Linked DNA regions of Homo sapiens. The protein of the gene in region 2 interacts with the protein of the main gene of each other region in a pairwise test. Each region holds a gene or a part of one and is shown on either strand. Other genes may lie near its edges. The genes, in order: RPS6KA6 and ADIRF.

Region 1 (3,816 bases), on a different chromosome or scaffold from region 2:
CTTTTTAAATGGCTGTTTCTTTTCTTTTTTTTTTTTTTTTTTTTTTTTTTTTTTTGTGAGACGGAGTTTCGCTCTTGTTGCCCAGGCTGGAGTGAAATTGGCACAATCTCGGCTCACCGCAACCTCTGCCTCCCAGGTTCAAGTGATTCTCCTGTCTCAGCCTCCTGAGTAGCTGGGATTACAGGCATGCGCCACCACACCTGGCTAACTTTGTATTTTTAGTAGAGACGGGTTTCTCCATGTTGGTCAGGCTGGTCTCGAATTCCTGACCTCAGGTGATCCACCGCCTCGGCCTCCCAAAGTGCTGGGATTACAGGCATGAGCCACTGTGCCCGGCCGGCTGTTTCTTGATAGACTGCTTTCCTGCTGTTAAAAATAATTTTATCATACTAAAAAACAAAACACTACATATTTGTTATAAGCAGCAATTTCAGAGAGAATGAATTTGGAAAGAGAAAGAAAATGTGACCTGAGCAATATTAGTTCATAGGAAAGATAAAAGTAACCTAATCAGTCACATTTTGACAATTTTTTAATAAACGAATGCAGTTAGTACATTCTCTATAATTGTCCACGTAAAATTAAATGCTTAATACCTTTTGAAGAATAAATTATTAGTTCCCATAACTAGACAGTTGGAATTACAGCAAAACAGTCATCCACAGAAGCTCTATTGTCCAGCGTTTAGAAATGTGAATACAAAGCAAACCCTAACTTGGCAATTACATATATATATTTATTTATAAGCATTTAGCTAAAATTTATTTAGTGAATAATTGAAACATACATAATTTGCCAATATAATGTAAGCTTGGATTTCCATATTCTAAAACTTTTGTTTTTCTAAATATTTCAAAGAAACTTATGTCTATAATTTAATATATTCAAGTATAGTTCCCTTTTCTCTTATGTATTAGCAACCAAACTGAATTTTAGGTGATCAAGCATAACATTTTATTGAAAGTATATGATGGAATTCACTACACTGTAAGACTAAAACCAGGAACAGTGCATCCATGAGTATAATGTATGTTGTGAATAATCACTATCAATGCCACTATATTCCCACATAAAAAGGCAAATAGCCCACTATTGATTTATTCTGCTAATTTCAACAATCATTGATCTTGAGGTACATGCCAAAAATGCCTGAATAAGCTTTGAAATGTAAAACAAAAATGTTTTAAAGAAGTTTAATTGCAGTTGGCCAATATATACTTAATATGGCTTGCATTTTTTTTTTTTTTTTTTTGAAATAACATTGTGACTTAAAGGATTTCTAGGTCCTAAAATCTGGAAAAGGGATCTGGAAAAATTTGGACTCCATGAGTAGTTTGGATTCAATCTCTCTGTGCTTTTTTTTTTCTTTATAACAGGAATGGGATGGGGGGTGGGGGGAATAAAACTTCTTATGCTATATAGGTCATGTACTGTGAGAAACAAGAATACAAAACTATGGGTTTAAAAACAACATATACAGAAATAATCGCCAATCTCTGTCTACCTCCACATCATTTTGTCATAGAAGTTCATTGTGATTAAAAAGTTTAAAAGTTTTTAAGAGAAAAGGTAGATTGAGAAGTAGAAAGGAAGTAGGAAGGAAATTGTGCAAAAAAAGAAACAGTTTATTAGATACTCTGACCCTGGGACACACTGTTCCTTTCCCCCAAAATATTTTCCGTGATAGGAACTGAATTTAAAATTATCACCTTGTTAGATTGCCTGAAGATCCAGCAACTAAAAACTTGATTAATGCACAACTTCCTTAAAAAATGCCAATTAACTATTAGCCACTGACAGAAAAATGTAAATTAATTTAATAAGATAGCTTTCCTTTCACCTTTTTAGCTGGAAATGTCTGTTCTGATAGAATGGATATCCTGATTTGGGGAAGAGGAAGAGGAAGGAACAAGGAGTAAGGATCACACAGAATCCTTCTGGGGATAGGGTAAATTTCGTTGATGGAGTATTGCTGTGAGGTGCTCAAATAAGATAGATAGCATGAAGGGGCTGGAAAGCCAGGAGAAAGAGAATGTACAGAATACCACAAATATGCTTTGCCCACTTTAAAGCCTAAGTTTTCTTGTGGGCCTTAGGGCCAAGATAAATGGTTGTTTTCCTTCTTCATATATGAAAGACCTCTATCTAGAAAATACTAGTCAATCTGTATGGAAGTTTCTCTGGGCAGTACTATTTTAACATGTTGTTCCAATGGGCAGACATTATAAATACCAAGCATCTGTTCTTAAGGTTGTGGGTTGCCTAAACATATGGAATCCCTTTGAGCCAAACAGAGGTGCTATCAAAATTGTTTTATTATATTGAATTACCAATGACAATAAATTACAAAAAACACTGTTTTAGACATTGCTGAGTCTAACAAAATAGGCTGAAGTTTGATCTTTGTGAAAGGACTTGAAACCATTGTTTTTTCCCACAAAAATCCCCATCACCAGCACTGCATTCGAATTTTCTTGAAAATTGTTTCCTGAGTTTATTCATGGTAGTATGTGCTTAAGGACAACAGGTTGTTAGTCTATTTGAGCAAACCTGATGTTTTCTCTAAGAAAAACAAATTCAATATCCTCCCCCTTCAAGAACAATAAAACCCCAAACTGTGCTATCATTAAATACTACCAAAAACCATTAACTAGAAAAACACAATGCAAAATCATTATTCAAGAACCCATTAGAAACCACAGTATTCTAAAGTCTTATAGAAAAGATGTGTTTTTACTAGTTAAGCATTGATAGAAGTCCCATCAAAAAAATGTTCAATCCAAATCTGCATTTTTGGCTATGGAGTTCTAGCCAAACTGGACAGGATTAGGCATCCTTACCTGGGCTCCTTCTACAAAATGACAGTATGTTTTGAAGCTCTCCCATATAATAAGGTTGCCCCCTACTACTGTGGTTAAGCTAGCATATTTGAGTTTTTCACTAGAAAACTCTCAAACAATTATCGGGTACATCCAGTAGCATACCTGTATCTTTTATACACTGTCAGTCCTCACTGGGTGATCAGAAATCATGCTGTTCATTGCTTAATTCTTATAGTGTTCCTTTTATGATAGGACTGTATGGCATGACCTTTCTGAGCAAGCTAATTTAAAATTAATTAAGACTGTCTACTTTTTAAAGCCATTGATTATAGAAAACCTGAAAGTTATTTTGTAATCATTTTTCATTTTCTGATTTCACTTCCCCTAATTTTATTACTTAAAATGCATCCATGGAAATAGTATCTCTGTCCTGAAAACTTCAACACCAAAATCACACCTCTGAGTTTGACTTATCGATTCTGATAGGAAGGCATAACAGCACTAGATAATGACAGAAGGAAAATAAGTCAGAATATATGCTTACAAACTGTTACATGCAAGTACATATAGTAATAAAGCAAATGAGAAAAAAAGCCAAAATGGAACATAAAAAGCCATAAGACATGATACCTAACTACTTCTAAGTAATTATTTTTCATGTGGCATAAATTGTTATTTAATCTCTTTCAATTATTTCCAAAAGATACCTCAAAATAAGAATACATACTTTAATATATCACACCCAGGAAACAGATATTTGTGCATGGGGTATAGATTATTTACATTACAAACAGAATATGTATAGTTTCTTTTATTAAATACCAAAGTTACGAGTTTCCTAGCCTAAATTGTATAATTCAGCACTCAGTAATCAACTTTCTCTCTGAATAAAGCAAAATAAAATACATAGCAAATAGTACACCTAACACGCACAAGTAGTTCACTTATATTCACTAAAGAAAACTGTGATATCCTCCAGTTTACATTCATGAAT
Region 2 (3,916 bases):
GAATATCTGAACCCAAGAGGTTTGACTGTAGTGCCTGCCGCTAGGGCCACGTGGAGCTCTCTCTACCACCATCTGCTGGGGGCTGGCTGTCTCTTCCCACAGAGGCTGCTCCCTTCCTGTCCAGCTCACAGCTCATTGCCCATGGGGCCTGGAGCCCAGTGGCACCACCAGCCTGTGATAAACTGGAACACTCGAAGGCCTGCCTGGCTATTGGGCACTACCGGTGGGATTTCAGGAGGGCTGGCAGGGCTGTGGCCAGCCAGGCAGGGCATGGCTGAGATGGGCTCCCCAGAGTCCCCAAGGCATCCATATGGCCGCTCCCAGGGCAAGGCCTCGCTCTGGGAGAGGAGGGGCGGGGGGCTGGGAGGACTGTTGCTGCCGCTTTGTTTTGCCTGAGACCTGCTCCCTCCCCCTTCCTCCACCTAATCTCATCACCTGCCTCTTCCCTTTGCCCAGGGTTGACCTCATCTCCATTAATCCATACCGTGTGTGTGTGTGTGTGTGTGTGTGTGTGTGTGTGTGTGTGTGTGTGTGTACAGGTGCACTTCCAAACAACTCCCTCTAGGGGCTGACCCCGCAGCACTAGAAGCAGGGTATGTGCCAGCAGACCAAGCCTGTGTGGCAGGGGCTTCCCAGCGCTCCAGAATAGGGGAGACACCAGCAGAGGTGCAAGAAACAGCCCCGGACAGGAAGCGGTAGAGAGACCCAGAAAGGCAGGGTGGGTGTGCACTGGCCTCCAGGTCCTGAAGGCCTACTCTGGAGTGGGAGTATACCCAGCTGGGTGGGGCCTGACCTACACCCCTTGTGTGCCAGGGGAATGTATCTTGCAAGCTGTTTTGCTGCACCCAAGGATGATCTTCTCCACTCAGGCCCAGGTCCCTAAGTCCCCTCCTAACAGCCACAAGTCATACTCTCTAGCGCCTTGCCTGCCCCATCTCAGGAAAGGTGACCTGAGAGGCCCAAGCTTATTCCTGCCCTCCCTGAGCCATGCTTCCTGCCCAACTTCCTAAGGCTTCGGTGACAGACGGCAATCTCCTTGCCTGGGCTGCACAGGCACACTGCCCTCTCCCCCTTGGGGTTGCATGGTCTGCAAGTGCACACACCTGTATCTCGCCCTCTCAGGGGAAAGATTTACCAGGCCCTCTCCGGCTGCATCCACTGGGTCTCTGGCTACAGGCAGAGAGCCAGTCAGCAGTGCCCCTGCAGCTGTTTGGGGCTGGGGGCTCCGATGATGCCAGAGCCCTAGGGTTTACAGGCACCTAGGCAGATTCGAGGATCCAAGTCCCTGCCACATGCGTTTGGGTGAGACCGACCTCACTGCCTCAGTTTCCTCCTATACACTGATGCTATCAACAAAAATACCCACTTCAGGAGGTGGTTGTAAAGATTATACAAGAGACTGCAGAGCGTTAGGCAGCACCTGGCACAAGACAAATGCTCAGTAAAAGACCACTGCTGTCATTAAGGTCAACACCAGCCCTGAGCTCCTGCCCTGGAGCTGACCCAGCGCTCACGCCCAGGATCAGAAAGGGAGGGCTGGGGCTGATGAGCTGGGAGGTGGTGTGCGCCCTTCTCCTGCCTCCAGCTCCTCTCTGGACCCCTGTCCTGGCACCTCTTCGGTCCCTGGTTCGGTCTGCCCCTTTCCCACCGCGGCCCGTCTTAGGCCAGGATGTGCTCCCTGCCCTGCGGACTCTGGAGCAGGGCCCGGCCACTCCCCGGAGCCTGTATGACGGGAACCGCCCCGCGCCCTCTCCCCTACGCGGGGCAGGCCAGCCCTGGGGCGCCTTAAAAACCGGAGCTGGCGCTTGGCATCGCCACTCTGGGCAGGATCCAACGTCGCTCCAGCTGCTCTTGACGACTCCACAGATACCCCGAAGCCATGGCAAGCAAGGGCTTGCAGGACCTGAAGCAACAGGTGGAGGGGACCGCCCAGGAAGCCGGTGAGGATAGCGCGCGACCTAGGGCTCAGGCAGGGGCACCTGCGTGGATGCGCAGGCAGAAGCAGCGGGTCGGCGCGGTCCGCAAGTTCCTGGACCGGCAGCTTGGCTCGGAAGGCTCGGTCCTCCACTGAGACGCAGGGGGCAGGCAGAACGCCCACCCCGGCGAGCAGACAGATGGTGCCCGCAGGGAGGCAGCGGAACAGAGGCTCCGGAGGAGCCGGAGCTGCGCTGCGGGCACTGCGGGAGCCCCTCCAAGGAGGCCATGCTGGCGCTGGGCGGCCCGCCCAGGCCCTCAGGAGAGGGTGAAGGTCCAGGACAGGGATCGGGCGCGGCCCGCCACCACTTAAACCCGCGCGCGCCACCAGAGGCTGCCCCAGACCTCAAAGGGCTTTGTTTCCATCCCACCCCCATCGCCGAAAAGTAATCGTCGCCTTACCTTTAAGTCCCCACCTGGCAAAGAAGGTCCTTAGTTCCTCCACCTCCAGCTCTCTCCTCCGTATTCTGGAGGTGACCCAGCTGCGGTGGGGGCGTGGGAGATGTCAGGAGACCACTGGGTTGGTTCTTCCTGCACCTAGCCCAGGCTTCGTTAGGACTCCAGCTCCCTGTCAGTCCTGCCCATATCCCAGTCAGGAGACAATATCCAAACCAACCCCTTACTTCACCAGTGCTCCAGGGGAGGCCCACAGTTCTTCCCTTGAGACTGAAATGCTACCAAGGAAGCCTCCGTGTCAGGTCCCTTCCTTCTGGGCTTCACTTTTCCATCTGAGAGCTGGGTGCAAAGGATGGGCTGCTTTCTGATGGGTTAATCGAGACGAGGTTCCCAGGGGCCTCTCAGCACACTTGCCTGACTAACCCTTTCCGGAGGATGGGATCTGGGTAAGGCAGGCCCTTTCCTGTTCAGCAGCAGGGATGAGTTACAGCTCTGTAGGCGGGAGCCACCTGTCAGCCCCCCCGGGGCTGGTGACTCCATTCCCAGCAGGCCGAAACTCTGGTCCAGAGGAGATAGTCCGGCCTTGGAAGTTTTGCCTCCTTCCTTCATTTGTCTCCTAATGTCTTAAGCTGCCTGTCCACAGAGGCACTGGCTTTGCTTGTGTGCCCCTCCGGGCAGGCCACAGGAGGGAGGAGGCAGTAAGGACCTGGCAAAACTGCAAGCCCCAGGGCTAAGTGCATGAAAGGTGGGAATTCAGGCATCTGGGCCAGGCTTCTAGGGGAGAAGCTGTAAAAGGGGGCAAGGGTCTTCTGCGCCATCACCAGCATTAGCCAACAGTCCAGATGCTAGCTGCAGCCTGGCCCTGCCCTGCCTTCCTTCCTCTGTCCAACATTTTCTCAGTAGCCCTGGAGATGGAAAGGGAAGCTCCTCCCCCACAGAGAAGGAGCTCAGAGTTAGAAATAAACAAAAACATCCCAGAGGCATGGAAAGGTCTCCTGCCCCTCGGGCTGGGGGGCCCTGGGCCAGGGACTTTATCTCCATGGCATCCATCCCTTGGACCTGTACCACCGAATACTCTGGAGGACACAGAGGCATGGCAATGGTGGGGCACCTGTAGTCGGTGGTGCCTCAACAGGGGCTAAAAGCCACATCTCTCTGTTCCAGTGTCAGCGGCCGGAGCGGCAGCTCAGCAAGTGGTGGACCAGGCCACAGAGGCGGGGCAGAAAGGTCTGGTGGGGCTGGAGGGAGGCGGGCAACCCCAGCACACCTCCCACTCCCCGCCCCATCCCGGCTGGGGCCCAGGCACATCCTCTCCTCTGCAGAGCCCTCTGTCCACAATGCCCCAAGCAGGTCCCCCGGGAGACCCAGGCCAGGCTAAGCCTACAGGCACTGTGGTTCCCGGGCCCTGCCTGACCTGCCCTCTCTCCCGCCCTTCCCCAGCCATGGACCAGCTGGCCAAGACCACCCAGGAAACCATCGACAAGACTGCTAACCAGGCCTCTGACACCTTCTCTGGGATTGGGAAAAAATTCGGCCTCCTGAAATG

The links.
Region 1: the proteins of ADIRF (region 2) and RPS6KA6 interact in a two-hybrid assay, tested with the Homo sapiens proteins (one large-scale study listed by BioGRID and IntAct).

Annotation. Positions count from the first base shown.
Region 1 is NC_000023.11:84,059,091-84,062,906, forward strand, and holds part of RPS6KA6 (ribosomal protein S6 kinase alpha-6), read right to left. Parts: 3' UTR 1-3,816. UniProt on the Homo sapiens protein: Constitutively active serine/threonine-protein kinase that exhibits growth-factor-independent kinase activity and that may participate in p53/TP53-dependent cell growth arrest signaling and play an inhibitory role during embryogenesis.
Region 2 is NC_000010.11:86,966,666-86,970,581, forward strand, and holds the start of ADIRF (adipogenesis regulatory factor), read left to right. Parts: upstream 1-1,816; 5' UTR 1,817-1,879; coding exon 1,880-1,940; intron 1,941-2,376; exon of another isoform or gene 2,377-3,534; coding exon 3,535-3,597; exon of another isoform or gene 3,598-3,810; coding exon 3,811-3,916. UniProt on the Homo sapiens protein: Plays a role in fat cell development; promotes adipogenic differentiation and stimulates transcription initiation of master adipogenesis factors like PPARG and CEBPA at early stages of preadipocyte differentiation.